Linked DNA regions of Homo sapiens: regions 2, 3 and 4 are each linked to region 1. The links come from fine-mapping of genetic effects on gene expression. A gene starts in region 1. Each other region holds a variant in brackets. All regions are shown on one strand. Distances are from middle to middle.

The links. PIP is the estimated chance that this variant, and not a neighbour inherited with it, causes the effect. A credible set is the group of variants that fine-mapping cannot tell apart.
Region 2: its variant is the best candidate, but not a certain one, in a credible set for the expression of ADI1 in whole blood (GTEx, PIP 0.52).
Region 3: its variant is the best candidate, but not a certain one, in a credible set for the expression of ADI1 in esophagus mucosa (GTEx, PIP 0.76).
Region 4: its variant is the best candidate, but not a certain one, in a credible set for the expression of ADI1 in whole blood (INTERVAL, PIP 0.87).

The regions. Positions count from the first base shown.
Region 1 is chr2:3,515,454-3,523,733 of GRCh38, reverse strand. ADI1 (acireductone dioxygenase 1) reads left to right here and starts at 4,203. Exons shown (of 4, transcript NM_018269.4): 1 at 4,203-4,366. The coding sequence starts at 4,247. It overlaps LOC124907725 (a long non-coding RNA gene), which reads right to left and starts at 4,188. Exons shown (of 2, transcript XR_007086195.1): 1 at 3,778-4,188; 2 at 1-828. RefSeq lists enhancers at 3,495-4,015, 4,016-4,537 and silencers at 3,957-4,086, 4,157-4,476, 4,557-4,616, 5,097-5,296.
Region 2 is chr2:3,482,435-3,490,714 of GRCh38, reverse strand. It overlaps TRAPPC12-AS1 (TRAPPC12 antisense RNA 1), which reads left to right and starts at 7,462. Exons shown (of 2, transcript NR_046720.1): 1 at 7,462-8,280. It also overlaps the pseudogene LOC112268321. The variant G/A (reference allele first, on the strand shown) is at 4,667.
Region 3 is chr2:3,561,672-3,569,951 of GRCh38, reverse strand. It overlaps RNASEH1-DT (RNASEH1 divergent transcript), which reads right to left. Exons shown (of 3, transcript NR_038429.1): 3 at 8,202-8,280. It overlaps LOC124907726 (a long non-coding RNA gene), which reads left to right. Exons shown (of 2, transcript XR_007086196.1): 2 at 1-1,470. Among named protein-coding and RNA genes, the nearest start is that of RNASEH1-DT, 7.4 kb to the right of the region's middle. RefSeq lists enhancers at 1-454, 455-1,061, 1,062-1,667, 5,263-5,312, 5,363-5,412. The variant G/A (reference allele first, on the strand shown) is at 4,698.
Region 4 is chr2:3,495,594-3,502,001 of GRCh38, reverse strand. ADI1 (acireductone dioxygenase 1) reads left to right here. Exons shown (of 4, transcript NM_018269.4): 3 at 1,009-1,188; 4 at 2,920-4,636. The coding sequence ends at 3,039. Among named protein-coding and RNA genes, the nearest start is that of TRAPPC12-AS1, 16 kb to the right of the region's middle. The variant C/T (reference allele first, on the strand shown) is at 4,206.

The DNA.
Region 1 (8,280 bases):
CACCCATGAATCTGGGACAGGCTAATTTCTTAGCTTGCAGAGTGTAAACATCTCCGACTCTTGGCAGTTCTTTCCACAGGCCAGAAGTAAAGTACACTTGATCATCAGATAAAAATTAACTATTATTAATAGTGCATGGCAGGCATTGGCAAACTCCAGGCTATGAGCCAGATTCAGTCTGCTGCCTGTTTTTGTATGTTCCATGAACTAAGAATGGTTTTTATGCTGTAATGTGGTTGTTGTATAAATACCTACATACTATCCTCAATTTTGACTCGATCTACAAAACCTAAACGATTTACTATCTGGCCTTTTCCAGAGAAAACTTGCTGCCCGTCTATAGAGCCTTATCTGCGTTCCACATTCCAGCAGTTTGGATCTTCCTGTTCTTCTGTGGCTCTACTGTATCCCTATATGGTTTGTTAACGCGCCCCTGGGTTGGGAGCATATCACAAAGCCCAGACGGATAACAGTCTGCGCAGGTCTGCGGCGATGGCGACCATCTGTCTTTCAAAACATCTAAACAGATTCTTCCCAAGTGTCTTACATCGGGGTGATAAATTCTGGTCATGAAACATATTTTTGGGCTGCTGCTGGCTATTCTTCTGGAAGAGACAGTTCAAGTTCCAAAGATTCCTCTTCAAAGGAGGAATCCCATGGGCCGGCAATGTCCGTATGAAGTAATGAGTGCTGTTCTCATCTGATTCTGCCCGCTTGAACTCCTGCCAGCAGCAAGTGCTGGGCTGCCTTGGCAATTCCTCAGAGCCTCTCCATCATCTTGCTTTTCTAAAGTATGTTTTTTATGGCATAAAACTGTTTCCCCCATACCTAATAGGAAAAAAGGAACAGCTACTGAAGACAGAGGCTGACAAATGGTAGATACATAATGGTGTGGGGCTGCCGCAGCCTGGGGGTGGGAGGGGAACCGGAAGCACTCTTCCAATTTCAAGATGAAGTTTATTCTACGATGGGATGAAACCCACATCATTACTTCTTGTACTCGATTTTAGCAGTTATGTGTACAGGCTGTTGGGCTGGGCTCCCCAAGCTCAAATACCAGCTTTGTCACTTCTGGTTGTGTGACCATAAGTTACTTCACCTGTTTGTGTCCTAGTTGTCTCATTTGTTTTTAAGTGATATGGGGTCTTGCTGTGTTGCCCAGACTGGTCTCAAACTCCTGGGCTCAAGCAGTCCTCCTGCCTCAGCCTCCCATGTCTCATCTTTAAAATGTGGATAATAAGTCATACCAACTTCACAGTGTAATCATGAGGAGTAAAAATAATAATATGCATCAAATCTTTAAAATGTTACCCAGCACACACTACTATTATTATTGTCACAATTACTATTTTCTTTTTAATAAAAATATTTTTTGTAGAGATGGGGTCTTGCTGTATTGCCCAGGCTGATCTGGAACTCCTGGCCTCAAGTGATCCTCCCACCTTGGCCTCCCAAAGTGTTGGGATTACAGGCATGAGCCACAGCACCCAGCCTAGTACTACTATTTTCTAGTAAATGAGAAGCATTAGATATGAGATAGGAGTGCAGTTACAGTAAGACAGTAAAGACTATTTGGAGTGTTCCTCATCCTATCCCTTCATTCAACAAACTTTTAAAAAAATTGTCTACTATGTACCAAGCACTGAAGGACTAATAAGACACATTCTCTGACCTCAAGGTATATGCGGCACTCAGCAATACAGACAAATCCATTCATTCAGCAAGTACCAAACAACACATGGAGTGGTCAGTCCTTTGGTGAAAAGACATCAAGTCAACATGTCCTTACAAACTCTAAGCTAGCACCATGGCAGTGTTTCACACGGAGAGCCCATCTAGTTGTCTAGGGAGTGGTCAGAGAAGGCTTCTCTACGAAAGGGATAGTTAAGCTGAAATTAGAATTTTGTATAGGAGAAAAGTACTTGGAGGAAGGAAGAGCATTTTCAGTGGAAAAACTGCATGGGTGAAGGGCCCAAAGGAAGGAGGAGCATATGACTCAAATACACTGAAAGGCCAAAGTATCTGGAGGACAGAGAACAAGAAAGGAGGGCGATGGGCTGTGAGGTGGTCAGGCCGAGGCTATAGAAAGGAGGGTTGAAGCAGAAAAGGGGCTTGACTGGATTCCATGTTTTTTTGTTTGTTTGTTTTTTGAGACAGAGTCTTGCTCTGTCACCCAGGCTACAGTGCAGTGGTACAATCTCAACTCACTGCAACTTCAGACTCCCAGGCTCAAGCAATCCTCCTGTCTCAGCCTGCAGAGTAGCTGGGACTAGCGGTGCAAACCACCACGGCCAGCTAATTTTTGTACTTTTAGTAGAGACGGGGTTTCACCATGTTGCCTCGGCTGGTCAAGTGATCTACCCTCTTTGGGCTCCCGAAGTGCTGGAATTACAGGCGTGAGCCACAGTGCCTGGCATCTGGCTCCTATTTTTAAAAGGTCACTCTGGGTGCTGTGCATAGAATGGATTGCACTGGGGCAAAAATGGAAGCGGTGTGAGGAGGGGGAATTTCAGTAGTCAATTCCATCAGGCAAGAAAAGACTGCAGAAAGAGTTGGGCTGGAGAGAAGTGAATGGATTTGCGGTGTGTTTCGAAGGTCAAAGCAACATGACTTGCTGATAGATTGGATTGGATCTTGAGGGTGAGGAAAAGCAAAACTGAGAGTACACCTAGATTTTTTTATTAAGCCACTGGGCAGTCAGTGCTGCCGTTCACTGAGACGGGAAAGGTTAGGGAGAAGCATGTTTGGGGGTGTGTGTGGGGAATCAGTTGTTTTGGCCATGTTAGGTTTGACACACTGATTAGCCATGTATGTGACAACACCAACTGGATACTCAAGCCTGAGGTTCTGGAATGAGGTCCAGGTTGGAGATGTGGCTGCAGGAGCCGGCAGCACAGCATGGAAAGTCGCCTGGAGTGAGTGGATAGGAACAGGACGAGGAGAGTCTGGAACGCTCCACTAACCAGTGGTTAGAGGAGCAGGAGCTAGGAGGGGCCTGGGAAGGAGCAGCCAAGATGCCCTCATGAAGGAAAATGAGAAAATGTTTCAAGAAGGGCGTGGGCAACTGTGACGAATGTTGCTGGTAAGAACAGAAGTGCCATGATTGGATCTGGCAATATGGCAGTCATTAGCAGTTCCCCAGTGGTGAGAAGCGAAGCCTTATTGCAGTGGCTTAAGGAGAAAATGCGAGGTGCGAGATTGCCATTAGATTCTTGCATGAAGGTTTGTCATGAGTGCTGCAGAAAAATGGGCAATGGCGTCTAAGGTGTGTTCTTGAAGGATGAGTAGTAACTGGTCAAGTGAAGAGGTGGAGAGGTAGGCTCTCTAAGGAGGATGTATTTGCAAAGCCATTAGAGCAAGGGAACAGAAATGAAATAAGTGTGTATTTTTCTTGCAATATTTCTGGAAGTTCAAGAGTCAATTGCATGCATTGGGGTTGTGCTCTTACAGCAGTCTCATTTAAATCCTGTCTGCTTTATCGTTATTTGTTAAAGAGACTGAGGGAATGGCTGAGATAATCTGATCTTTTTCAACTCGTTGGTTTGAAAAGACATCTAGGATGGTCAAGCGGCTGGACTTTATTAGCTACATTGAAAAATTCAGAATGGGATAGGGGAAGCTTGTTTTTATTCTAAGACTAGCACATTACAGTGTATGGGGAAGGGAGAAACGATGAAAAGAGGAAACAAGAGGAAGTTTAAAAAGTACAGGGTAGCACTGCAGAATGCCGACACTGCAAAAGTCTGGCGAGCGGGGAGGTGGAGGACAATGTCTCACCTGGGATCCGAGCTGTGAAGTCTCAACTGTGCCCATATGGACTGCATGAGCTTAACAAAATCCTTATTCTTTTTTTTTTTTTTTTGCATTTGCTTTCCATACTCTAAACACGTTTAACGTCGTTTGCCTCACAAGATTGCTCTGAAGGTGCAGGGAGACCGCGGCAGCACACACAAGGCACGTGCGATGCCTACGGTGAGCTTCACCTGCCCGGCGCGTCTGGCGAACGGCTGGCCCCGGGCCGCGGGCCTCAGGCAGGTCCGAGGGTGCCCAGGACAGGGTCGGGGCTTGAATGCCTTTGCTTCCGAAAACAGCGGAGCCGTGGGGCCTCCCCCGCGCCGGCCCTGCCTCCAACCAGCCGCCCAATCCCGGCTCCCATGCGCGTCCACGCCTCCCTATAAGATAAAGCGCGGCCGACGGGCTCCGAGCGCGGCCCCTGGGTTCGAACACGGCACCCGCACTGCGCGTCATGGTGCAGGCCTGGTATATGGACGACGCCCCGGGCGACCCGCGGCAACCCCACCGCCCCGACCCCGGCCGCCCAGTGGGCCTGGAGCAGCTGCGGCGGCTCGGGGTGCTCTACTGGAAGGTACGCGAGCCCAAGCCTCGCAGAGCGTGCGGGCGACGCCGACCCCCAAACGCCGCGCACAGCCCAGCCTCCTCCAGGTGCCGGGCAGCGGCCTGGGAGCCGCGGCATGCTGCGCATGCTCAGCAGCGGGATTTGGGGGTTCGTGGCGGCTCCCGGTGCCTGGGGTGGGCTGCGCATGCTCAGCAGTGGGGCTGGGTGGTCAGGGCCTCCTGCGCGGCGCCTGGGTGTGCTGCGCATGCTCAGCAGCGGCGTTGAGGGGTCGGCGGTCAGCCCCCAGCGCCTGTGGTGTGCTGCGCATGCTCAGCAGCGAAGTTTACGGGGTTGGCGGTCGGCTTCCGGCGCCTGGGGTGGGCTGCGCATGCTCAGCAGCGGGGCTGGTGGGGGTCGGCGGTCCGTTTCTGTTGCCTGGGGTGTGCTGCGCATGCTCAGCAGCAGAGTTGGCGAGTCAGGGGCCTCGCAGCCGGGACTCGCTGCGCACGCGCAGCTCCGGGATTGGCAGCGACCTGAAGGGTCGGCCGGCAGGGCTGCAAGATTCGCCGGAGGCGGGCTGCGAGTTCGTGGGCTCGTTGGGCTTGTCCGACGCCCTGCCTGCCTGGCTAACCTCGGTCAAAGGCCCAGGGGTTTCTTCTATCGGAGGAAGGGGGACTCCGCTTGAAAGTGTCCTGGGGGAGGGACCGGGCGCCAGCAGATCGAGGCGGGGTCCTGCCGCGGTCTGTCGGGGATCCCCGGGGGGTAGCGCTCGGTGGTGGGGTGGGGGCGTCTCCAGTGGGCGGTGGAGCTGGCTTGGGTCCCGGCTGGGCCCGGTGTCAGCCCTGCCTCTGTAACGCTAGCTTTGCAAGGCGGGGCTAGGCTTTGCACCGGTGTCCCGTTGCTTGCACAGCACCAGTCCAGATCCGCTCACCTTGTTTATTTGCAAATGGTTTTGCAGTAACAAAGGTTTACTGCAAAAGAGAGGGCCAGGGTAGGCCTCAGGGATAGGCTGAGGGGTGACTGGATCTAATCTTCATTCATGTGATTTAAATGAAATACACAGGGTTACCTGGACACCACACTTTTTCCCTTGGGAAAGGATTATAGAATATTCCAGCATAATCTATTTGGATATCATCTTGTTCTATCCTAAATAACAGAAGAGGGAAGTGACAATTGGCATACCAGTGCGAAACAGGGCATGCATGTTAATGTTTACATAGTATTTGTCTTTTCCTAGGATAAGGTTTAACACTTACCTTGCTGGAGGGTACTTCTTCAAAGCAATCAAGTGGTTTATAGTTTTCCATTAATGAGAGGAGAATAAATTTTGACTTATTATGTTTATCCACAATCCAAACAACCAGAGGGTTCAAATTAATACACTTGGGGAGTTTCATTGTGCATTTGACGGTTTTAAGAACAAGAACAAGAGTGAGATTACAGGTCAGCTTCTTAATGTATTCAAAGAATAAAATAAGATTTATTTTAATAGACATCTTTTAGATTATTACATGGGCTCAAACATAGTTTTTCCTACCGTCTAGTTCTGCTCTGAGTCAGGGCTATCAAAATTAAATCATGTTTACTCTGTGGTTTTAATGTCCTGTGTGTTTTTATATTCTTCCTTTCTTTTTTTTTTTTGCTCTTTTTGCCCAGGCTGGAGTGCAGTGGCATGATCTCGGCTCACCGCAACCTCATCTTCCCGAGTTCAAGCCATTCTCATGTGTCAGCCTCCCGAGTAGCTGGGATTACAAGGTGCACAGCACCATGCCGGGCTAATTTTGTATTTTTAGTAGAGACAGGGTTTCTCCATGTTGGTCAGGCTGATCTTGAACTGCTGACCTCAGGTGATCCACCCACTTCGGCCTCCCAAAGTGCTGGCATTATAGACACGAACCACCGCACCCGGCCTATATGCTTTCTTAATATCCATTCTGGATCAGTGCTGTTGGAAGACAAAATTACAACAAATTTAGTTAAAGATCTAATTAGCTTTTATTCTTGATTTGTGAATAGGGCAACCTCCGTTCTACAAAATAGAATAAGAGCTCGATAGGGTAATAGCACAACAGTGGGTTTTGTAGGGCGGCAACAAAGAAACAGAACAATAGGTAGAAAAGCTGATTGGTTAACGTCAAGTTACATTAGGTTACTTTTTTCCTAAGGGTTAAAGCAGAAGCGACTTCCTTATTATTCTGACTCAGGAAGACTGGAATCTTCTGATCGCAGGAAAAGCTGGTCTGTTTGAGATGCACCTCCTTCTTTAAAGTTTTAGTTTGATCAAGTGGCATATGGCATGAGTGGCTGCATTTTGGTTTGGTCTCATCCTGGGGCCTAGTGCAGGGGCTCAGTCCAAAACAGTGACCTCTCCTGGGCCAGGCATGGTGGCTTCTGTCATCCCAGCACTTTGGGAGGCTGAGGCGGCAGATTGCCTGAAGCCAGAAGTTTGAGACCTCATCTCTAAAAAAACCCAAAAAACAAAAAAGCCACACACACACCCCATATTAACATTATATATATGTAACATCTCCCATAATTTTTAACAGAGGTAACACATGTGGACATGTTTGTGTATCTGTTTAATCAATCTGTTATTAGTGACATAGAGTTCTAAAAAACCTTTTGTCATACATACAAACAATTGGAAGATTATTTTAGCTTGGAATAAACTAAATACCTGCTGCTATAACAAAATGACAAAAATAGCTTAAACTGGGCAATTTATAAACAACAGCAATTTATAGAATTCTTATAGTTCTAGAGGCTAAGAAGTCCAAGATTAAGGTGCCAGCAGATTTAGTGTCTGATGAGGATCCTGTCCTCATAGACGGCCATTTCCTTGCTCTGTCCTCATGTGGTGGAAGGGGCAAACTGCTCTCTTACATCTCTCTTGCTCTTTTTTTTTTTTTTTTTTTTTTTTGAGATGGAGCCTCGCTCTGTCACCCAGGCTGGTAGCGCAGTCTTGGCTCACTGCAACCTCTGCCTCCTGGATTCAAGTGATTCTCCTGCCTCAGCCTCCCGAGTAGCTGGGATCACAGGCGTGGACCACCATGCCTGGCTAATTTTTGTATTTTTAGTAGAGATGGGGTTTCACCATGTTGGACAGGCTGGTCTTGAACCCCTGACCTCAGGTGATCTGCCCACCTTGGCCTCCCAAAGTTCTGGGATTATAGGTGTGAGCCACAGTGCCCAGCTCCATCTCTCTTACAAGGCCACTAATCCTATAAATGAGGGCTTGCCCTCATGACTTAATCACATCCTAAAGGTCCCACCCCTTAATACTATCACATTTGTGTTAAGTTTCAACATTCGTATATTTAAACTTATGACACGTGTCATATAATGTGTCATATTACATATTATGTGTCATAATATGGACACATTCAGACCATAGCAAATAGTACTGTGCATATCATGCAGTGGATAGGCTAAGTTTTAGAGTCAACTTTGTAGAAAATAACGTATTGATGACTAGTACTTTAATATGTTCTGGAGTATCGGGGGAACCCACCCCCAATATTTCAACATAGGTTCCATTTTCCATAAGTGTCGGCCAGCTGAGAAATAAAGAGAGACAGTATAAAGAGAGGAATTTTACAGCTGGGCCGCCAGGGGTGACATCACATATCGGTAGGACCGTGATGCCCGCCTGAGTCTCAGACCAGCAAGTTTTTATTAAGGGTTTCAAAAGGGGAGGGGGTGTAAGAACAGGGAGTAGGTACAAATATCACAGGCTTCAAAGGGCAAAAAGCAGAACTACTAATAAGGGTCTAACAAAGATCACATGCTTCTGAGGGAACAGGACAAAGGGCAAAAGCAGAACCACTGATAAGGGTCCAACAAAGATCACAGGGCAAAGGGCAAAAGCAGAACCACTGATAAAGATCTATGTTCAGTGCTGCACATATTGTCTTGATAAACATCTTAAATAACAGAAAACA
Region 2 (8,280 bases), 33 kb after region 1:
GCTCACCTCCACTCAAGAAACTGCTGACGGTGGATCAGACATCTTGACAAAGAGAAACCAATGGAACAGACATCTGAGAAATAGGAGAAGAGCTGTCCTAGTCAGGCAACGTCCGGCCTCGGAGTGGATGGGGAAGGATGGAGGCAGACAGGTGGGATCGCAGTGGGGGGTGCATTCTGTCCCCGCTCCCCAGGCTGTGCGGACCCACAGGGCAGAGGCTGCCGGCCTGCTGTTCCCTCCTGCACAGTGCCTGGGGCGCCAGGCTCATGGGGTGCTCTCAGTGGAGAGGTTAGAGGGACTAGGAAGGAAGACCTCTTGTCCCAGGCAACCTGCAGAGGCCGGGAGCCCTGGGGGGAGGTCCTGGGAGGAGCCCTGGGGGGAGGTCCTGGGAGGAGCCCTGAGGGAGGCTCTGGCCCTGCATCTGCCTGGAGCTTTGCCCAGGATTGCCGTTCTCGTCTTCCCAGGATTCCGACTCTGTGCTTCGAAATGTCGTTACACGATCTCTTCTGTTGTCTTAGTTGGGGCTCTTTTTGTTACAAGTGACAGAAGCCCAATGTGAAGGAGCCTGTGCCTGGGGGTGCCTGCCCTGGGGGATCAGGGACCAAGCCACGTCTGCTCACGGTGGGACACAGTGTAGACACAGTGTTGACGTCTTAAAGCCTTACTTCTCATTCCATTACGCAGAGGAGTGACTTCAGCTGCCAGCCCTGGTCCCCAAGGCTCCAGGAGAGGTTCTGTGGGACTAGACCCAGGTCAGCGGCTCTGACAGGGACAGGATCGCGCAGCGCAGACATGGCCGTCGGCTGAAGGGCCTCCTGTGGTGCGCAGGCCACTGCCGGCTCATGTCCAGGTCATCTCTCCCGCGCTGCAAATCCTGCTTGCCCAAAGTAAAAATGGAGCGTGTAAAGTTAGCACGGTGGACATTTGTGCACTTATGGGACAGAGGAGGCTTGAACTTCATTCCGAGGGGAAAGAAGCCAGCCCTGGCTTTCTTACTCTGTTAGATAACCCTGTCTCTCTAGGTTTCAAAAATATCTTCATCCCATCGCAAGTGACCAGGAGGGACTTCTGGGCCTCACCCAACTCACTACCGCAGTGAGTCGCTAGTACTGGTAAGATGACCTGTGGGTTGGGTCAAGGGCTCCCGGAGTCCTCTGCCTGCTATGATGCGTGAAGTTCTTCCATTCACCATGTCTCTCAGTGAAACTCGGTCCCACAAGCCCCTCCGGGAGAGCTGGTTTTGTCCCCTGAGTGCCGAGATGCATAAGAAAGTGGCTGGTGGGTTCCTCAGGACGCCACAGTCCAGTGAGGAGAGCAGAGGGTGCAGCAGCCCTTACGGCCGGGTGAGGGGTACGGGGGCTCCAGGCAGGCACAGCTGCTGAGAGAGAGGGGTCGGGGCAGTCGTCACCATCAAGTGGATGGCTGAGGCAGGACGTCCCTGCGGGCTGATTGTCCCTGGTCCTGACCAGATTTGCTGTGACCACCTGGCTGGGCCCTGAAGAGGGCAGAGGAATTGCTCAGGTGGGGCCAGGGCACAGGGCTGAGGCCTGCAGTCGGGCCGTGCCAGGTTGCAGATAACATCCGGGGCACCCCTGAGCAGGCGGCTCTTCTGAATCGCTCTGTGTTTTGCTCTCTGTTTTCTGCCTTGGGAAGTGATTATTTTTCAAAACATTCTCTTAAACGTGGCGGGGGCAGGGCACTAGAAGCATCCAGGCATGAAGACAGCCCCCAGGTCAGCAGGGCTGGGGAAGCTGGGCTGGGCGGGGGCTGGAGGACAGGAGGCTGTGCTCCTATCACGGTCTGTCCCTGGCGTGAGCAGTGCAGGTGTGACAGTTCTGGGGTGGAGCTTACTTTTCAACTGAAACCACTTTCCCATGGACGTGCTTGCCTGCCTGCCTTTATTATTATAGTTTAATGTGTTTCATTGTCCATGTTAAAAATGCTTGTGTTTATTTTGCACCAACTGTTCAAAAAAACCCACCCATTCTAAAATCCAAATAGGATTTCATCTGAGTTATAAACCCACCCATTCTAAAATCCAAATAGGATTTCATCTGAGTTATAAACCCACCCATTCTAAAATCCAAATAGGATTTCATCTGAGTTATAAATACAACAGCCTGGCAAAGGGCAAGTCAATGGAATCAATACGATCTGCCCTAGCGTCCGCGTATTTTCCAGCCTGCTCCATTGCTAATCACTCCTGAAGCCTCCTTGGTGCCCCGGCTTTATTGATTGCCTCTGCAGAAGAATGTGTGTGTGTGGGGTCCCCAAGGACACAAGGACGCCACTGGCAGGGCCAGAGACAGAGGCATGCTCTCCAGAGGCCTGTCCTGCTGCTGCTGCTGCTGAGCAGGACTTTGGGCCAGCGGCCACCCATGATGACATTGAAGCTGGCCCCAGAGATCCCAGGATAGAGGCCCCAGGGCAGCACTGCCTGCTCCACCTCCACAGAGAAACATCCCTGTGAGCTTGGGGTGTGGAGAAGACGAGGGAGGAGCCCTCCGTGGATGCCTTGGGCTTGGAGGTGTCTGCATGGATGAAGGCTCAGATGGAATCACCCCAGTTCTGCTGCTGCAGTAGCTGTGTGGCCGTGGGCAGGTTCTTCAAGCTGTGCCTCAGTCTCCCTGTCTGTAAAGGGGGACATCATGTACCCTTGGAGCAGGGTTGAGGTGAGGAGTCCACCAGAGCCTGTCTGTGAGGTGGAGGGGCTCGAATAACGTCCACTAAAAGTTCATGTCTGCTCGGAACCTCGGAATGTGACCTTTTTGGAAATGGTCTTTGCAGATGTAATTAAATAGGGGTTTGAGATGGAATCATCCTGGACTAGGGTGGGCCCTAGCTCCAAAGACTGTTGTCTCTGCAGGAACAGAAGACAGAGACACTGGAGGAGGCCACATAAACACAAAGGCAGAGACTGGGGCCATGTGGCCGAAAGCCAGGAGCACCGAGGACTGCCATGGCCACCACGGAGAGAGGCCTGGGACAGACGCCACTGCAGAGCCTCCAGAGAATGCAGCCAGCCTGCAGCTCGCGTGCAGCCTTCCAGCCCCCTGAACTGTGAGAAGATGCAGTTCTATTTTAAGCTGCTCTGTTTGGGCACCTTGTTACAGCAGCCCCAGGAAGCTACTCAGTGGGCGTTTGTGGTTGGCCGCTGAGCATTCCCAAGGTCACGGCCCCATCCTAAGCCCTGGGACCTGTGCACGTGACCTGTTTTGGAAAAAGGGCTTTTGCAGATGTAATTAGCTTAAGGATCTTGAGATGAGAAGATTATTCTGGATTACCGTGGGCCCCAAATACCATCTTAAGTGGCTCCGCAAAAGATTTGGCACACGGAGGAGGCTGTGTGACCAGAGGAGAGACCGGAGTGATGTGGCCACAAGCCAAGGGCACCGGGAGCCCCCAGAGGCCGGAAGAGGAGAGGAAGGAGCCTCTCTAGGAATGGCCTGCTGACGGCAGCCTCCAGAATGGGGAGGGAATCAAGTCTGTGCTCTCATACTTAGGAGTGTCTTACGGCAGCCTCAGGAAACAGACGCAGTTTCCCATTCACAGCCTGGCCTCTGTCCCCATCTGGGGGTTTCCCCACAGCCTGGCCTCTCCCTGTTGCCCAGGCTCTCCCCATAGCCAGGTCTCTCCCCATATCCTGGCGTGTCCCTGCAGTCTGGCTTCTCCCCACAGCCTGGTGTCTTCCCATAGCTTGGAGCCTTCTCACAGCCTGGAGTCTCCCCTGCATCCTGGGGTCTCCCTGCAGTCTGGCTTCTCCCCATATCCTGGGGTCTCCCTGCAGCCTGGGGCCTTCTCATATGCTGGGGTCTTCCCGCATCCTGGGGTCTCCCATATCCTGGGGTCTCCCTGCAGCCTGGGGCCTTCTCACAGCCTGGGGTCTCCCCACATCCTGGGGTCTCCCCGCATCCTGGGGTCTCCCCATATCCTGGGGTTTCCCCGCATCCTGGGGTCTCCCCATATCCTGGGGTTTCCCCGCATCCTGGGGTCTCCCTGCAGTCTACCCATGGTGCCAGGGCAGCTCTTCCTCCTGACATGTGTGGGGGGCCCTGGGGTGCAGAGAATAAACTCCACCCATCGGATGTGAATTCCAGCAGCCCTGAGGGTGGGTGAGTTTCCTGGAGCAGTGGGCGAGGGTTCAGGGATGCAGTTCGCTGACTGTCCAGCTCAGCACGCCCAGGGAGCTGGCAGGGTTCCCTGACCCCGGGAAGCAGGTGGAGGCTGAGACAAAGGCCAAGCCAGCTGGAGGCTTTAGGGAGACGCACTGGGTCCACTCCACAGGCAGCAGGACCCCAGGCTCACTGTGGGCATTTGAGGAGTGGGTGTCAGGGTGACCAGAAGGAGCCAGGGTGGAGGTCGCAGGGTGTCATCTCGGTGGGCAGAGCCTCGGGGCCCTGGGGTGGAGGGAGTGAGGCTGGAGAGCCTGGCTGGCTGTGCTGGACGCCTAACACGGTCCCGGAGATGGCACTTCTCCCACGGACGAGGGTGGGCGACGCGGGAACAGACTGCCCGTAATCGGGTTCCAGGTCCAATAAAGGTAAACCTCGAGGTGGAAAGGACCTAGACGCAGGTGAACACGGTCCTCCGTGTGTGAGTGCATGTGTGTGTTGTATGTGTAAGCGTGTGGCCATGTGTGTGGTGCTGGAGCCCAAAGCCTATCCAC[G/A]GCAGCCCATTGGTGGGTCCGGCCCTGCCTGTGGATTCAGCTCTCCACTGCAAAGCAATATGCAGTGTGTGAAACGGCAACACAGATCGTGGCACCACCATGAGCCTCACTGTTAGATTTGGATTGGAATCCCTCCCTCTCTCCCGCTTTAAACTGTGGGTCCTTGGAAAAGTTACCTGACGTTTCTGATTTTCACATTCTTACCTGTAAACCCTCCCAGAGTTGAAATGAGCCGTGTGGGAATGGGGGTGGGGATGGGGAGGCGCGCAGTCACCCTCGCCTTCCTTTTCTTCTCTCGGTAATTGTGTTCTTCTATGTCAAAGGAAAAGAATAAAACTGGAAAATTATTTGGGGGAAAAAGAAAAAGACACACATGCAAGTGCCACAGGAACCTGCTGGGGGAGAGATGCTCTGTGGCCTTTGGTAAGTCAGCCTTCAGCCTAGCAGTTGTAGGACCCTCCGTGGTTCTGGATCCGCATCAACTAGAATTCTATGTTCCAGGGAAAACTGCTTTCAATGCTGACTTACACTTAACACTGTAAGGCCATGGAGCAGAGTAAACATCCCGTCCCATCATGCCCCACGCCCTCCGGAACACCCCGTCCCATCATGCCCCACACCCACTGAAACTTCCCGTCCCATCATGCCCCACGTCCTCTGAAACATCCCATCCCATGCCCCACGCCCTCCGGAGAGTGAGGGCTGCAGGGCCAGTATCTGCCTAGCCCGTGGCAACCTCAGCCCTCAGAGAGCAGCCCTGGTTGCCAGGAACCCAGAGGGCAGAACCCACACTGACCACTAACCATTGGCAAAGCAGCGGCTCCTCTGCAGGGGCTTTTACGTGTTGGTTTCTTTGGCACCATCCAACAGAAACAGAATGGGAGCCACAAATGGGCGCCACATACGTAACTTAAAGTTTTCTAGTAGCCACGTTAAAAATGTTCAAAGGTCATCTTAATTTTAATAATATGTTTTATTTAATCTACTAGATCCAAAATTACTATCATTTTAACAGGTACTCAAAATTATTAATGAGATCTTTTACATTCTTTTAGAAGTGTTTCATAACGTCTCTGCAGCAGCCACATTCCCCATGCTCAGCAGCGGCTCACAGCCTGGATGGCAGTGCGGTGTAGACACTTGAGCTGTGGGCAGGACTCTTCCCAGTCCTCATGGCTGAGCACACAGTGCCGGGCCAGGTGGTGCACGCTGGGGGACCATGGGCCGGGCTGGTCCTGGCTCTGCACTGTCCCTGTGACCCTCGGGATGTTCCTCAGCGTCTTTTGGCGATGGTTCCTTTCCTGTAGGATGCGAGGCTGACAGCATCTGCTGCTAGGAGTTGTGAGGACACGTGAGTTCATTTCAGTTGGGTGCAGCGCCGGCCTAGTAATCTCACTGACCCTTGGTCGCTCAGCCAGTGACTGTGCCCACCTGCCACCATCAGAAGATGGCGGACTTGGGGGTCAGGAGAGCCCTTCCAGGACTGCAGAAGCTGGTCCTTGGGGGTCTCGCAGCAGATCCTGGGGGCGTTCCCAGTATGGGTGCAATGTACATGGGGGGCTCAGGACGGGAGGCCCATGCCAGCCCCTGGGCCTCCAGAGCTGGCAGAAGGCACAGCCCTGCATGGCCAAGGGCGCTGGGCTGCGTGGAGAATGTGCGGGTTCTGTTGTTCTGCCAGCTTAAGCAGTTTACCAAACCAAACAAAAAAAAGGATATGCAACAGGGACAGCATGTGGCCCACGAGGCCTCAAATATTGCCTCTGGCCCTTCACAGAACACGTGTTCTAGAAAGGAAATCCTATGCTCGCGGGCTAGGGGCTTGCTGGGTGGGGAGAGGGGTTCAAAACGTGGTTTGTCACTTCCTATGAGGGTGATCCGACAGGACTTCGTGGAGACGGTGGCGTTTAAGTGGCCTAAGAAGAACTGGAAGGATTCAGAGGAGCGGAGGGACGTGGCCTGGTGGGCAGAAGCCATGGCTGGGTGTCGCAGGCTCTGTGCAGCTCTGACAGCTGCAATGCAGGCAGGCACCCCCCCACCCCATGCTTTACGGCCATCGGGTCTGCAAGTTATAAACTTGGTTACCCCCAGAACGTTGTTTAAACAGTACTGTGTTCTAGAACATGCTGAGATAGCATTTATGCAACTGATGCCAAGGTGTGGAACAGGTTAGTCTGGCTTTTTCCTCAACAATCCAGGAGGAGGACAGGGAGAAGGCAGCATTGCTCCTGAGCGGGTGAGGCCAATTTCATCCTGAGTGATAGTGACAGTAATAACTGATAAGAAATGAAATCACAGCTTTTCACACGCAGAGCCTGACAAATGGCTGACCCTTCCTCCATCTCTGGGTGCTCATGCTGGAGAGCGACGGGCCCTCCCTCCACTGCCGGGGGGGGACGTGCTGGAGAGCGACAGGCCCTACTTCCGATCCTTGGTGCTTTTGCTGGAGAGCAAGGGGCCCTCCCTCCACTCCTTGGTGCACGTGCTGGATAGTGACGGGTCCGCAGTCCACTCCTGGTGCTCCTTCTGGAGTGACAGGCTCTCTCTCCACTCCGTGGTGCACGTGCTGGAGAGTGACGGGCCGGCAGTCCACTCCTCGTGCTCCTGCTGGAGAGCGACAGGCCCTCCCTCCAATCCTTGGTGCTTCTGCTGGAGAGCGACAGGCTCTCCCTCCACTCCTCGGTGTGCGTGCTGGAGAGTGACAGGCCCTCCCTCCACTCCTCATGCTCCTGCTGGAGCGCCGCAGGCCCTCCCTCCACTCGTGCTCCTGCAGGAGAGCGACAGACCCTCCCTCCGGTCTTCGGTGCGCGTGCTGGAGAGCGGCAGGAGCTCGGCCTTCTTAGGGTGTTTGGGACCCCATCCAGCGTGGTTTTGCTTTAGTTCCCCGCCCAGGGAGAGGAGCTCGGCAAGCAGCACCGGGTTTATTCTTGCTCATTTATTCAAAAGAAAGGTACTGAGTTTGAAAATGCACCAAGCACTGGAGAGAAGAGAAAGGTGAAAGGACCTCGGGGCCTGCCTGTAAGAGGCTCAGGATGTGATGTGGCTGGGGATGAGGCCCGGTGGCACCTTCAACGCAGGAGAGGAGGGGGTCTGGATCCCACCGTCAGAGCACGCACGCAACCTGTCCACTCCCTCAGGACTGCAGAAAAGGTCCATTCTTGTATTTCTTTTTAAGTTGAATTAAATCCATCTCTAGCCCCTGCCTCTGAACTGATGGAGTCTGGCTGTCATTGGGCCTCCCTCACCCGCAAGGGGTGGAACCAGAGCTTGGGGCTGAGGCGCTCCTGGAGTGTTTAGCGCCTCTGCTGTCAGGACATCCTGTGGCCACTGGCACGCTGTCTGCCCACACAGTGCCCCCGACCAGCAGCGGAGCCACCCACTCTCCACAGCCAGGGTTGGGAGCCCTGGGGCCCGAGTCCCCGGTCCCACGTGCCACACAAGGCAGGACATTCTGGGTGCTGTCGCATCCCCGGAATCAGGGCCTGGACCCTGGTCAGAGCAGGACCTGCAGGTGACCCCGGGTGGGGCAGACTGTCTTCTGTCCTTGGTGGCAAAGCCGGTGTTCTCGGCGTCATGTCTGCACACGTGTGCCTGAAGCCACGGGAACGCAGGGGCTA
Region 3 (8,280 bases), 46 kb before region 1:
GGACTGTACTGCTGCCATCTCGGCTCACTGCAACCCCCCTGCCTGATTCTCCTGCCTCAGCCTGCCGAGCGCCTGCGATTGCAGGCACGCACCGCCACGCCTGACTGGTTTTTGTATTTTTTTGGTGGAGACGGGGTTTCGCTCTGTTGGCCGGGCTGGTCTCCAGCTCCTAGCCGCGAGTGATCCGCCAGCCTCGGCCTCCCGAGGTGCCGGGATTGCAGACGGAGTCTCGTTCACTCAGTGCTCAATGGTGCCCAGGCTGGAGTGCAGTGGCGTGATCTCGGCTCGCTACAACCACCTCCCAGCCGCCTGCCTTGGCCTCCCAAAGAGCCGAGATTGCAGCCTCTGCCCGGCCACCACCCCGTCTGGGAAGTGAGGAGCGTCTCTGCTTGGCCGCCCATCGTCTGCGATGTGAGGAGCCCCTCTGCCTGGCTGCCCAGTCTGGAAAGTGAGGAGCATCTCTGCCCGGCCACCATCCCATCTAGGAAGTGAGGAGCGCCTCTTCCCCGCCATCCAGCCCATCTAGGAAGTGAGGAGCGTCTCTGCCCAGCCGCCCATCGTCTGAGATGTGGGGAGCACCTCTGCCCCGCCGCCCCATCTGGGATGTGAGGAGCGCCTCTGCCCGGCCGCGACCCCGTCTGGGAGGTGAGGAGCGTCTCTGCCCGGCCGCCCCGTCTGAGAAGTGAGGAGACCCTCTGCCTGGCAACCGCCCCGTCTGAGAAGTGAGGAGCCCCTCCGTCCGGCAGCCACCCAGTCTGGGAAGTGAGGAGCGTCTCCGCCCGGCCAGCCGCCCCGTCAGGGAGGGAGGTGGGGGGTCAGCCCCCCGCCCGGCCAGCCGCCCCTTCTGGGAGGTGAGGGGCGCCTCTGCCCGGCCGCCCCTACTGGGAAGTGAGGAGCCCCTCTGGCCGGCCACCACCCCGTCTGGGAGGTGTACCCAACAGCTCATTGAGAACGGGCCATGATGACAATGGCGGTTTTGTGGAATAGAAAGGGGGGAAATGTGGGGAAAAGATTGAGAAATCGGATGGTTGCCATGTCTGTGTAGAAAGAAGTAGACATGGGAGACTTTTCATTTTGTTCTGTACTAAGAAAAATTCTTCTGCCTTGGGATCCTGTTGATCTGTGACCTTACCCCCAACCCTGTGCTCCCTGAAACATGTGCTGTGTCCACTCAGGGTTAAATGGATTAAGGGCGGTGCAAGATGTGCTTTGTTAAACAGATGCTTGAAGGCAGCAGGCTCGTTAAGGGTCATCACCACTCCCTAATCTCAAGTACCCAGGGACACAAACACTGGGGAAGGCCGCAGGGCCCTCTGCCTAGGAAAACCAGAGACCCTTGTTCACTTGTTTGTCTGCTGACCTTCCCTCCACTATTGTCCTGTGACCCTGCCAAATCCCCCTCTGCGAGAAACACCCAAGAATGATCAATAAAAAAATAAATAAATAAATAAAAACATTTAAAGAAAAAAATATATATATATTCTTTTCTTTATTAAAAATATATATATTTTATATATAATTTCTTCTCTATTATGTAGGATCCTGTGCCTGGAATGTATAATCTCTGTGCTGCAGAAAGCCTAGAGGTCAGATAGGTGAGGAGGCCACAGGCTTCAAAGTCATTCTTCCCCTCCGAATCTTAATGTTAATAACGGAGTGACAGAAGGAAAGTTACTAATGAGTCCTTGCATGTGAGATGAAGTTATGGACCTGTCTGCTCGATCAAGAATTAATGGATTGCATTTAACAGAAGGTCCTTTCTCTCCCCTCCACTTACAGCTGGCAGAGCCTTTATTATTATCATCGTCCGTGGACCAGTGCAAGTGAGATGAATATGCCAGGCTGTAATGAGAGTGAACTCCTGGGTTAGCACACGCTTAACTGAAGCAAGGTCACAGGCCTGCTCTGTAAAGTCAAGGCCACTTTTCCTGTATGGCAGTAAACCGTCTCTAGACATGGGCGACCTGTGGGTATATGGAAAGTAATTGCTCATATATTAATATTTAAAATATAGAAATATTTGCACTCGATTTTTATCATAAATTGATAATTTGCTTACCTTTGATAGATCTCATCAAAAGAAACACTATTCTTACCATTAATTGTCACAAAATATGTACAGGATGAAAAGAACACTGGTTCTTTTCATCCTCTATATGCCCGGATAATTTTTATATTTTTAGTAGACACAGGGTTTCACCATGTTGGCCAGACTGGTCTCGAACTCCTGCCCTCAGATGATCTGTCTGCCTTGGCCTCCCAAAGTGCTGGGATGACAGGTGTGAGCCACTGCACCTGGCCAGTTATCTCCATTTTTCACAGGAGAGAACAGAATTGGAGCAATGCAGCAGATGCACACAACCAGCAAACCTAGAGCTGGAATCCGAAGTCGATGCATGTGAACGTCCCAGCTCAGAGAGAGGCGGTGAGCAGGAGAGGACTGGGTGAAAATGGTTCGCACACACACCTTTGTCTTCATCATTTAGTCCTCCAGGGTGTCACATGGACTACGCCACTTGACCTCCACAGCAATTCTGTGGCATTTGTGCACCAGAAACTTTATCCCTGTTTTGCCAGCGAGGAAACTTAGGTTTGGAACGGGTAGATCACCGCACAAAGCCTTACTGTAAAGAGCGCCAGGCCTCAAACTTTTGCTGGCATTGTCCTTCACAGTTTACTTTAGGGCCTGTCATTTACTGGGGTGAAACACAAAAGTTTCTTGTCCCTGAAAGTCTGCAATTAAAGTGCCATTAGCACAGTAATGTACCAACCAGTCGTTCCTTGGGCCGCAAGGGGGCATGTCTACTGCTACTCAGTCTCAGTGGGTAAGCTGGAGAGTCCTCCCACAATGAGCAGATTCCGAGGCGGGTGTGTACATGGAAGGACTCACAGGGGTTGGGGAGGCAGCAGTGGCGTTCTGTCCGAGCCTGTTTGTGTTGCTATAAAGGAATACTCGAGGCTGGGTAACTTATGAAGAAAAGAGGTTTATTTGGCTCAAGGTTCTGCAGGCTGTACAAGAAACATGGCGCCAGCATCTGCTTCTGGTGAGGCCCTCAGGGAGCTTCCACTCATGGCAGAAGGGGAAGGGGAGCTGGCATCAGATGGCAAGAGAGGAAGGAAGAGAGGAGTGCGGGAGGTGCCAGGCTCGTTTCAACATCAGCTCTGGCAAAAACTAACAGAGCAAGAACTCACTCCTTCCCGAGGGGACAAGAGGATGGCACCAAGAGGCACATGACCCCAAGACTCCCAGTAGGCTCCACCACCAACACCAGGAATCAGATTTCAACATGAGATTTGGAGGGACCAGGTATCCAATCTATCCATCCACTCCAAGCATCCATTTGATACCCAGAATGCATTATTTCAGCACCCGTATCCATTCAACAAAACTATTTTAAATTATAATCATGTAATAGGAATAATCATCATTTTCCTAATTATTCTTCGGTTTCAAAACCAAAAATTGGCAGGTCATGGTGGCTCACACCTGCACTCCCAGCACTTTGGGAGGCCTCAGGTAGATCACCTAAGGTCAGGAGTTAGAGACCAGCCTGGCCAACATGGCGAAACCCCATCTCTACTAAAAATACGAAAATGAGCTGGGCGTGGTGGCGTGTGCTTGTAATCCCAGCTACTGGGGAGGCTGAGGCAGGAGAATCACTTGAACACGGGAGGTGGAGGTTGCAGTGAGCCGAGATCGCGCCACTGCACGCCAGCCTGGGTGACGAGAGTGAAACTCCATCTCAAAAAAAAAAAACCCAACAATTACACTTTTAAAAAACAATAAATTTCTTTCCTTTTTTTTTTTTTTTTTTTCTGAGACAAGATCTCACTCTGTCACCCAGGCTGGAGTACAGTAGTGCAGTCACGGCTCACTGCAGCCTTAGCCTCCCAGGCTTAAGCAATCCTCCACCTCAGCCTCCCAAGAAGTTGGGACCACAGGCACGCTTGGCTAATTTTTAAATTTTTTTGTAGAGACAGGATCTCACTATGTTGCCCAGGCTGGTCTCAAACTCCTGGCCTCGAGTAATCCTCCTCCGTTGACCTCCCAAAGCATGAGCCAACGTACCTGGCCAAAAAAAATAAATTTCAATTGTATTTTATTTATTTATTTATTTAATATTTTTTTGAGACAGAGTCTTATTCTGTCGCCCAGGCTGGAGTGCAGTGGCCCAATCTCGGCTCCCCGGGTTCTAGCGATTCTTCTGCCTCAGCCTCCTGAGTAGCTGGGACTACACGCCCGTGCCACCACGCCCAGCTAATTTTTGTATTGTTAGCAGAGACAGGTTTTCACCATATTGGCCAGGCTGGTCTCGAAATCCCGCCTCGGCCTCCCAAAGTGCTGGGATTACAGGCGTGAGCCACCACTCCTGGCTAAATTTCAATTTTAAAGACATTATTTGAATTCAGTAAAATGTGTAATATATGAGCTAAAATCCACACTATAACAAAAATATTTCAGCTTGCGGTTCCCACCGCCCTGTTTCACTGATTCAAATTTTAAGCACAAGTGATCACATGGAATGAAGTGAAGTAAAGCAAGTTCTCCTCGTTTGTCTTTATAGTCATAGTGCTACCACGGTTCACTTCAAACCTGCTGTTTACATGCAGGAGGTTGCAGTGCCCATCAGCTGGATCAAACTGTGCCTGAAGCTAGCACTCTGCTTCTGAACCAAATAAACTTCTTGTGGCTGAAC[G/A]AAGACGTGTTGGAACCAAGTGCATAGCTGGGAGCCCTTGGGATTAACTCCCATGTAAGACATGTTTGTTAAAAGATTAGGGATAAAAATGGAATTATACACATATAATTACAAGAAAGTTTTTTTTCTGGGAAGAGTATTTATCACTGACAGTGTTTAGAATTCCCGGTGCTCAGTTATAATAACAGAGCACCCTGACTTTCAGTCGGCTTGATCAGTCTTTTTTTTTTTTTTTCGAGACGGAGTTTCACTCTCGTTGCCCAGGCTGGAGTGCAACGGCGCGATCTCGGCTCACCACAACCTCCGCCTCCCGGGTTCAAGCGATTCTCCTGCCTCAGCCTCCCGTGTAGCTGGGATTACAGGCACACGCCACCACACCTGGCTAATTTTGTATTTTTAGTAGAGATGGGGTTTCCCCATGTTGGTCAGGCTGGTCTCGAACTCCCAACCTCAGGTGAGGCTTGATCACTCTTTTAGGTTCTCTGTGGCTAAGGTGACGCCCACACCCGAATGAAGTTCCCCTTCCCCAGCCTCAGGCATCCATGGCAGGAGGTGAAGTTGTGGGGATTGTTGATAATGGATGGAATGTGAACGAGTTGCATCAGGAAATGCAGGCTGAGCACAGTGGCTCCCGCCTGTAATCCCAGCCCTTTGAGAGGTCAATACAGGAGGATTGCTTGAGGCCAGGAGTTTGATTCCAGCCTGAGCAATATAGTGAAACCTTGTCTCTACAAAGAATTTTTTTTCTTTTTTTTCAGAGACAGGGTCTCGCTCTGTTATCTAGACTGGAGTGCAGTAGTGTGATCATAGCTCCCTGTAACCTCAAAACATTTTTTTTTTTGAGACAGAGTTTCACTCTTTTTGCCCAGGCTGGAGTGCAGTGGTGTGATCTCAGCTCACTGCAAGCTACACCTCCCAGGTTCAAGCGATTCTCCTGCCTCACCCTCCCAAGTAGCTGGGATTAAAAGTGCCTGCCACCACGCCCGGCTAATTTTTTGTATTTTTAGTAGAGACGGGGGTTCACCATGTTGGCCAGGATGATCTCAATCTCTTGACCTCATGATCCACCCGCCTTGGCCTCCCAAAGTGCTGGGATTACAGGCATGAGCCGCCACACCCGGCCTCAAAACATGTTTTTTTTTTAATTATACAGGAGGCGCACACCTGTAATACCAGCTATTTTGGAGGTTGAGGTGGAAAGATGACTTGAGCCCAGGAGGTTGAGGCTGCAGTGCGCTATGATTGCGCCAATGCACTCCAGCCTCGGCGACAGAGCAAGACCCCGTCACAACAACAAAAAATGAGAAAATGGACATTTATGGCAAACTACTTCTGCCCCGAGATTTCCTGTGGGTTCTGCGTGATTGGCTCTCAGGGTGTGGGCAGCTAAGGTTCCAAAGTGTACTGTTTAATCCTAGCACAGCACAAATGGCTTGCAGGAGATAAGGCAGAATCTCATCAGCACATCAGGGTAAGCACCCAGCTATCATGGGCTAGACCCATGGAGAAGCCGTGCTCTGGGAACCCCCCTCCTCCTTCACTAGAGGCAATGAAATGAAGCAGTAGCTCCTGCTCTGACCTTACTGCTCCCAGAGTCCTTGTGGGTACTAGTTCCAGTCTCAGACTAACAGCCAGAAGATCTGCCATTGAAGTTTCAGTTCCAAAACTAATGCGATGACTTTGGGTAAGTCATAAAACCTCAAGGGTCAGTTTCTTCATCTGTTAAATAAAATCGACATCTGCCCTGCCAGCCTCACAGGGTTGTTTTAAGAAGGAGATGGAATAACAGAAATGAAGGAGGGAGGCCGGCTGCTACCACAGGGCAGGGACTATCACCCACTGTGGCCTCCAACCTGATGGTGCCTCAGAGTCAGCTGGGGCTGCCCAAACACAAACCGCCGGGCTCCACCCCCAGGGATTCCCATGCTGAGGTCCGGGTTGAGGCCCAGAATTTCCATGTCTAATGAGTGCCCAGGTGGTGCTTTTGCTGCTGATCCAAGGACCACACTTTGAAAACCATGACTTAGGTTTAGGAGGACGGGCTCTGGAGGCAGGTTTGAGTCCTGGCTGTACCACTTCCTGTCTACATGTCTGAGGACAAGTGACTTAATCTTTACATTTCAGCTTTCTCAGCTATAGACAATATAATATTGAGAGTGCAAATTAGTTCAACCATTGCGGAAAGCAGCATAGTGATTCTGCAAAGAACTTAAAACAGAACTACCATGCAACCCAGCAATCCCATGACTGGGTATATACCCAGAGGAATCTAAATCGTTCTACCATAAAGACACATGCAGGTGTATGTTCACCACAACACTATTCATGATAGCAAAGATGTGGAATCAACATAAATGCCCATCCACAGTAGACTTGACAAAGCAAATGTGGTACATTTACATCGTGGAATACCATGAAGCCATAAAAAAGGAACGAGATCATGTCCTTTGCAGCACTATGGATAGAGGTGGAGGCAAGCTAAGGCAGAAACAGAAAACCAAACACCGCGTGTTCTCACTTATAAGTGGGAGCTCCACAGCGAGAACACAGGGATATTAGGAGGGGAACGGTGGGCAACGGGGCCTACCTGAGGGTGGAGGATGGGAGGAGGGAGAAGATCCGAAAAAATACCCATCGGGTACTAGGCTTATTCCTCAGTGATGAAATTATCTGTACACCCATCCCCCATGACATGAGTTTACTCATGAAACAAACCTGCACATGGACCCTCAAACCTAAAATAAAAGTTAACAAAAAATTTTCCTGACCAACCTCTTCAGGAAGAGGGGCAATCCTCGTGTCACAAGCAATGCCAATAAAGAACAGGAACGCCACCTTTTTCAACTCCTGAGAGATGAATCCAACGTCTGACCCTGCATTGCATGCACTCTCGCCCACGTCGGCTCTCATCCCCACACTCCTCGTTCCTGTCACCGGCCTATGCTGTAAACACCCTAGCAGTCACAATCAGTCACTTATCTGTCTTATGGGTCTATTATTTCATTCTCTGTCCTGCAACCGAAGCTCTGCGTTGTCTTACCCATGTTTAGAACAGCTCCGTTCAATGATGAGAGTCACACAAGCCATCTAAACTTTTCTGGTGGTCACATTAGAAAAGTAAAACAGCAAGAAATAGTTTTATTATTATTATTAAGATGGAGTCTCACTCTGTCACCCAGGCTGGAGTGCAGTGGGACAATCTCGGCTCACTGTAACCTACACCTCCCGGGTTCAAACGATTCTCCTGCCTCAGCCTCCCAAGTAGTTGGGATTACAGGCACTCACCACCACACCCGGCTGATTTTTGTATTTTTAGTAGAAATGGGGTTTCACCATGTTGGCCAGGCTCATCTCGAACTCCAGACCTCAGGTGATCCACCCGCCTCAGCCTCCCAAAGTGCTGGGGTTACAGGCATGAGCCACTGTGCCTAGCCACTAATTTTAAATGTATTTCTTTAACCCAATATATTCAAAATATTATCAGTTCAACCTGTAATCAATATACAAAATTAACAATGTGTTTTAATTTTTTTGGCAGTAATGAATGCCATGTTGGCTTTTATTATTTTTTTTTTCTAATTTT
Region 4 (6,408 bases), 21 kb after region 1:
GAGCGGGAGGTGTGGAGATATGAACAGTGCAGGCAGAATCAGATTATAAGGGCACAGTCTTGGTGAAGGGGGTATGGATATTTACTGTAAAATACTCTCAATGTTTTTGCATACTTGAATATTTTTATTATAAAATATTAGGAAGAAAACACTTTCAGAAAGACACAAAAGTCAGACCAGGCGTGGTGGCTTCCACCTGGAATCCCAGCACTGTGGGAGGCCGAGGCAGGTGGATGACCTGAGGTCAGGAGTTTGAGACCAGCCTGGCCAACATGTTGAAACCCCATCTCTACTGAGAATACAAAAATTAGCTGGGTATAGTGGTAGGTACCTGTAATCCCAGCTACTTGGGAGGCACGAGAATCGCTTGAATCGGGGAGGCGGAGGTTGCAGTGAGCTGAGATTGTGCCACTGCACTCCAGCCTGGGCAACAGAGCGAGACTCCACCTAAAAAAAAAAATACACAAAAGTCAATGTGAAGACATAGAAAATGCTTGTGGAGTCTGTGCCTGCCTCCCTGCAATGTCCACTGGCTTCTCACTCACCCTGTGTGTTGTGATTTCATGACTGCTGTGTGCAGCACACTGGGTGGGTGTGAGCATGGGGCCAGGGTGTCTTTGGGGCAGTCTCGTTGTGTGAGGTTGGGCCAGTGACTTAGCCTCTCTGTGCCACCATTTCCACATCTGTAAAACGGGGCTGATAGAGCAGCCACCTCGTGGGGCCGTGCGGGTTGGGTGAGTTGGCCTGTGTGAAGTGTTCAGAACCTTTGCTTCAGGTCTGTTCACTTTCAGTTACTGCCCATTTGTTGACAGGTTTCATAAAATATTCTAGCTCTGGCCCTTGTACTGTTAGGAAAATAATTCTTAGCAAGTGTAGTTTCATTTTTATGGAGAGAAGTCCCATTCACCTCAGCTCTGGCCCACCAAAGGCTCAGGCTGCTGAGTGGGTGGGTGTGAGCTTGCGTGACAGGTCTCTGGTAGACTCACAGGAATGTTCCTTCTGCACTAGATTAAGATGTTCTACGAGGAGCATTTGCACTTGGACGATGAGATCCGCTACATCCTGGATGGCAGTGGGTACTTCGATGTGAGGGACAAGGAGGACCAGTGGATCCGGATCTTCATGGAGAAGGGAGACATGGTGACGCTCCCCGCGGGGATCTATCACCGCTTCACGGTGGACGAGAAGGTGGGAGTGCTGTGCTTTCTCCCCAGGCCCGGCCTGTGTGGTGGCCCTGGCCGTGGCATCTCTGCCGCTGAACTGCGCGGCTTCCGCAGACTCCAAGCGCGGTCGCTGGGCTCGGGACTCCTCGACCTGTGCTTCAAGGAGAGTCTGTGGAGCCGCAGGCGATGTCCGAGGTGACAGCTGTCCTTCCGTGGCAGCCTCCGTGGCCCCTGCCTGCGATCCTGGTGGACAGGTGTGCATTTCATACCCAGGCGGGGCAGGTACAGGCGGCGGCAGGTACATGCGGCGGCAGGTACACACCCACGAGCCTGGCCCTGCCCCAGCCCTTGCTTGGCGGTGAGGCATCTCTAGGGTTGTCACCCCAGCCCGTGTTTGGTGGTGAGGCGCCTGTAGGGTTGTTATGTTGCCATACTGTCACTTTTAAAAACATTTCAGTTTTGGAATTGAACAGTAACGCAGTCCAGTCAGGATTGGCAATAAACACAGATAAGGTAGTTTTGGGGTTCACTGGAGGCGATTGGGGTAATGCTGATTTAAGGGTAATTTTTGAATAAATACTAAATGCACATGGTTTAAAATTTAGAAATATGAAAGGGGACCTGGTGAAAGGTCTCCCTCTGACCCCTGTTCCCAGCCTCCCAGTTTCTCTCCCTGAAAGTAACCAGTATTCCACTAAAAAAATTATTTTTAGAGTGACTTTACACATATCCAAGTGCATGTCAGTCAGGATTCTTTTTTTTTTTTTTTTCTTTGAGATGGAGTCTCACTTTGTCGCCCAGGCTGGCATGTAGTGGCTTGATCTCGGCTCAATGCAACCTCCACCTCCCAAGCTCAAGCGATTCTCCTGCCTCAGCCTCCTGAGTAGCTGGGATTACTGGGGCACACCACCACGCCCGGCTAATTTTTGTGTTTTTAGTAGAGACGGGGTTTCACCATGTTGGCCAGGCTGGTCTCAAACTCCTGACCTCAGGTGATCCACCCACCTTGGCCTCCCATGGTTCTACATTTTACTTTTTTCTACATGATGTTCACTGGGGACTGTTTCATTTCAGTGTCTACAAGCCTCAGCCCTGATTACAGCTGCACAGTACTCTGGCGCTGGACATGCTGTACTGTATTTAACCATTAATTTATTTCAGTGAGTCATTGACCCCCAACAATGAGTATATACATTGTTCTCAATTTTTTGCTCTTGTGAACAGGGCTGTAATAAATACCCTTACATGCTTGTCATTTTGCACTTCTGTGTGTTTTTCTGTAGGGTAAATTCCTAAAAGTAAAAACTGAATTAAAAGGCACGTGCGTTTTTAGTCTGGACGGATGTGGCTGAATTGTCCTCTCCTGCCCACCAGCAACATGTGGGCCCTGATGCTAATTCTTAGGAAAACTGTAGCCAAATGAGGCGGAGAGGAGGTGGAGGGTACATGGGGTTGGAGCCAGTGCTTTTCCTGACTGTGTGTCTCTATAGAGAGCACGGAGGTGCGGAGTTCAACACCAAGCCTCAGCTCCAGATGCTCTTACCTGGCACGTGAGGACAGGCAGGGCCAGCTGCACCACCTGATACAAATTTTCCTTCCACGAATAAAATGTGGCCTAAATTGTTAAAGACGCAGAATAAAAATAGCAAGTAAAGTGTTTATAGCAATTAATGTTAACAAGTTGATATGTTAATAAATACTAAGTAGAAGGCCGGCTGGTTTAATGAGATGCTGGGTGTGTTTGTCTGTTTTCCAGAACTACACGAAGGCCATGCGGCTGTTTGTGGGAGAACCGGTGTGGACAGCGTACAACCGGCCCGCTGACCATTTTGAAGCCCGCGGGCAGTACGTGAAATTTCTGGCACAGACCGCCTAGCAGTGCTGCCTGGGAACTAACACGTGCCTCGTAAAGGTCCCCAATGTAATGACTGAGCAGAAAATCAATCACTTTCTCTTTGCTTTTAGAGGATAGCCTTGAGGCTAGATTATCTTTCCTTTGTAAGATTATTTGATCAGAATATTTTGTAATGAAAGGATCTAGAAAGCAACTTGGAAGTGTAAAGAGTCACCTTCATTTTCTGTAACTCAATCAAGACTGGTGGGTCCATGGCCCTGTGTTAGTTCATGCATTCAGTTGAGTCCCAAATGAAAGTTTCATCTCCCGAAATGCAGTTCCTTAGATGCCCATCTGGACGTGATGCCGCGCCTGCCGTGTAAGAAGGTGCAATCCTAGATAACACAGCTAGCCAGATAGAAGACACTTTTTTCTCCAAAATGATGCCTTGGGGTGGGGAGTGGTAGGGGGAAGAGCTCCCACCCTAAGGGGCACACACTGAGTTGCTTATGCCACTTCCTTGTTCAAAATAAAGTAACTGCCTTAATCTTATACTCATGGCTTGGAGTTACCTTATATTCAGGTATATGTGATATTTTGCCTGGTTTGTTAAAATTGCCCCATTTAGATTCCTTCTATAATTGTTCTTATAGATAAGTAATTTATATATGAGCTGTGTTAGTATTTTTTCAGTGTGAGATCTCTGGATTCTTTCACAATAAAGCTGTTGAATTTTAACAGGAGTATTAGTACATAAATTTTCTACTCAACAATTCCGAGATAGGATTATGCCTAGTTTGTCATATCACAGAAAAACTCCAAGTTAACTTCATGTTTTGGAAGGGCAGGTCGTTTTTAAAGTATTTCTTTTTTTAACTGGATGAAAAATCTTCATGTTAGGATTAATTTTCTTAATCACCTCCACACTGTACAGAGGAAACTCAAGCCTTAAATGTTTAAGTAAACTCTGTCTCAGTTTTAGGATTAAAATACCCACCGGTGGTGTGATGATGCCATATACCGCAGGGCTTGCTTCTGTCAAGTGTGACTCTATCTCAGTAATTAAAATAAGTGCTGATCTACTGATTTTTTTTAATGGATTCATTTCTAAATGGGCATTATAAATAGAGCTTGTTCATTTTTAAGAACGAAACATTCATATGATAAACTATCGCTTTAAATTGCCTTTCTTGCTTCATATAACTTTT[C/T]CCTGTCAGGATCCTTAGTGTTTGAAACTCCTCGTGCGGGGCTGGCCTCCTGCGGACTCTAGTTTCGCCTCCTTGATGTGGCGCCTGGGATTTCTTCACTTCAGAGCTGTATTTTTACAGGCAAGAGTAAGTTCCTGGGCACAGTGGCTCATGCCTGTAATCTCAGCTACTCAGGAGGCTAAGGTGGGAGGATTCTTAGAGCCTGGGAGGTCGAGGCTGCAGTGAGCTGTGATTGTGGCCACTGCACTCCAGCCTGGGTGACAGAGCGAGACTCTGTCTCAAAAAAGAAGAAAGAGTAAGAGCTGAGGCATATAATAGAATTCTGCTAAAGCACTTAAGGTGAAATCACATTTTCTTTTCCCAGGATGTTGCTCACATCTTTCGTTTTTATTGAGGTGTCATTTATATACAATAAAATGTACTCATTTTCAGTGTTTTTGAATTTTGACAAATGCAGCATGACCTCAGGCAGAACAACATAGGACATTTTCATCACCCAAAGAAGGTTCTCATGCCCCTTCTTAGTCCCCCCACCCCATCCTAAGCAACCTATGTGGGTGGGTTTTGGCTTTTCTAGAATTTGATGCACGTGGAATCCTGCAGCATGTTCACGTTTGTATCCGGCGTCTTGCGTTCCTGCTTCTGTTCCCTGATCCCTACACTTACACTGTCTCCTGGGTCAGGGCAGCCCCTTGTTAGTATCTTAAACAATGGAACGGTTTGAGGAGAGCTCGAGGGTTGAAAAACACTAAGCGAGCGGAAATGTAATGTAGTAAGAAACAGAACTCTAGGCGGGGAGAAAACCTAGGGAGGTAAAAGGCTGTTCTTCCCGAAGGCATCACTGTAAAGTAGTGGGGGGGTCTCTCTTCAAGCCGAATGTTAGAGAAGACGGATCCTTGGCTGGGCGCGGTGGCTCACGCCTATAATCCCAGCACTTTGGGAGGCCGAGGTGGGCGGATCACCTGAGGTCAGAGGTTCAAGACCAGCCTGGCCATGATGGCGGGTGCCTGTAATCCCAGCTACTCAGGAGGCTGAGGTGGGAGAATTGCTTGAACCCAGGAGGCGGAGGTTGCAGTGAGCTGAGATCTTGCCATTGCAGTCCAGCCTGGGCAGCAGAGCGAGACTCTGTCTCAAAAAACAAAAAAAAGAAGATGGGTCCTTTATAAACACATTCGTTAGATTCTAAATCAGGTATTTTTTCCAAGGAGCCCAACTGTTAGTTTCCCAAGCGGGACAGCTGTTGGTTTTCACTGTGTCCAAGTTCGTCAATTTAGAGCAGGCTCTGCCTGCTTGCTGAGTAAGATATTCCTGGACATGTGTTATTTTTCAAGTGTGCCCTCTTTTTACAGGCACAGATGTATTTATTGCCATGGGGTTTATGACTGGGATATTAATAAATCAGAATATGAATTATCGCACTTGAGTATGGCTTCAAGCTGGTTAATGTGTTGGCATTTTCAAGACACTTTGATTTTTCCTGCCGTCTTCCTACTCGAGGTAGATACCGCACTGCAGACAGCACAGGCAACCTGGTGAGAGGCCTGCTCGCATTGTGGGGACTTCACGCTTGTTTCTAAGGAGTAGGCGTGGATAATCCAGGAAATGTCCAGCCTTGTTCTATCTTGTTCCAGATTCAACATCTTATCCCAATGAAGTCCTGGCCCCAGGACGCTCTCCCGGTTTGGAATAGCTGTTACAGGCTTCTTCATTCCTGCGGCGGCTCATTTCCCTATTTGGTTTTGTCCTCACTTCCGAAAAGTGAATAGGATCATCTCCTTTCTGATTTTTATTTCTCTTCTTGCCATCCATCTCTTCATCTTGTTAACTAAAAGATGACACAATCTATACATTTAGAAGAGGAGACATTCTTTCTTTTTCTTTTCTTTTTTTTTGAGATGGAGTTTCATTCTCGTCGCCCAGGCTGGAGTGGAGGGGTGTGATCTTGGCTCACTGCAACCTCTGCCTCCTGGGTTCAAGCGATTCTCCTGCCTCAGCCTCCCGAGTAGCTGGGATTACAGGCGTGCACCACCACACCCGGCTAATTTTTTTTGTATTTTCAGTGGAGATGGGGTTTCACCATGTTGCCAGGCTGGTCTCGAACTCCTGACCTTGGGTGATCCATCCGCCTGGGCCTCCCAAAGTGTTGGGATTACAGGTGTGAGCCACCATGCCCACCTAAAGACATTATTTCTTGTAAAGAGTT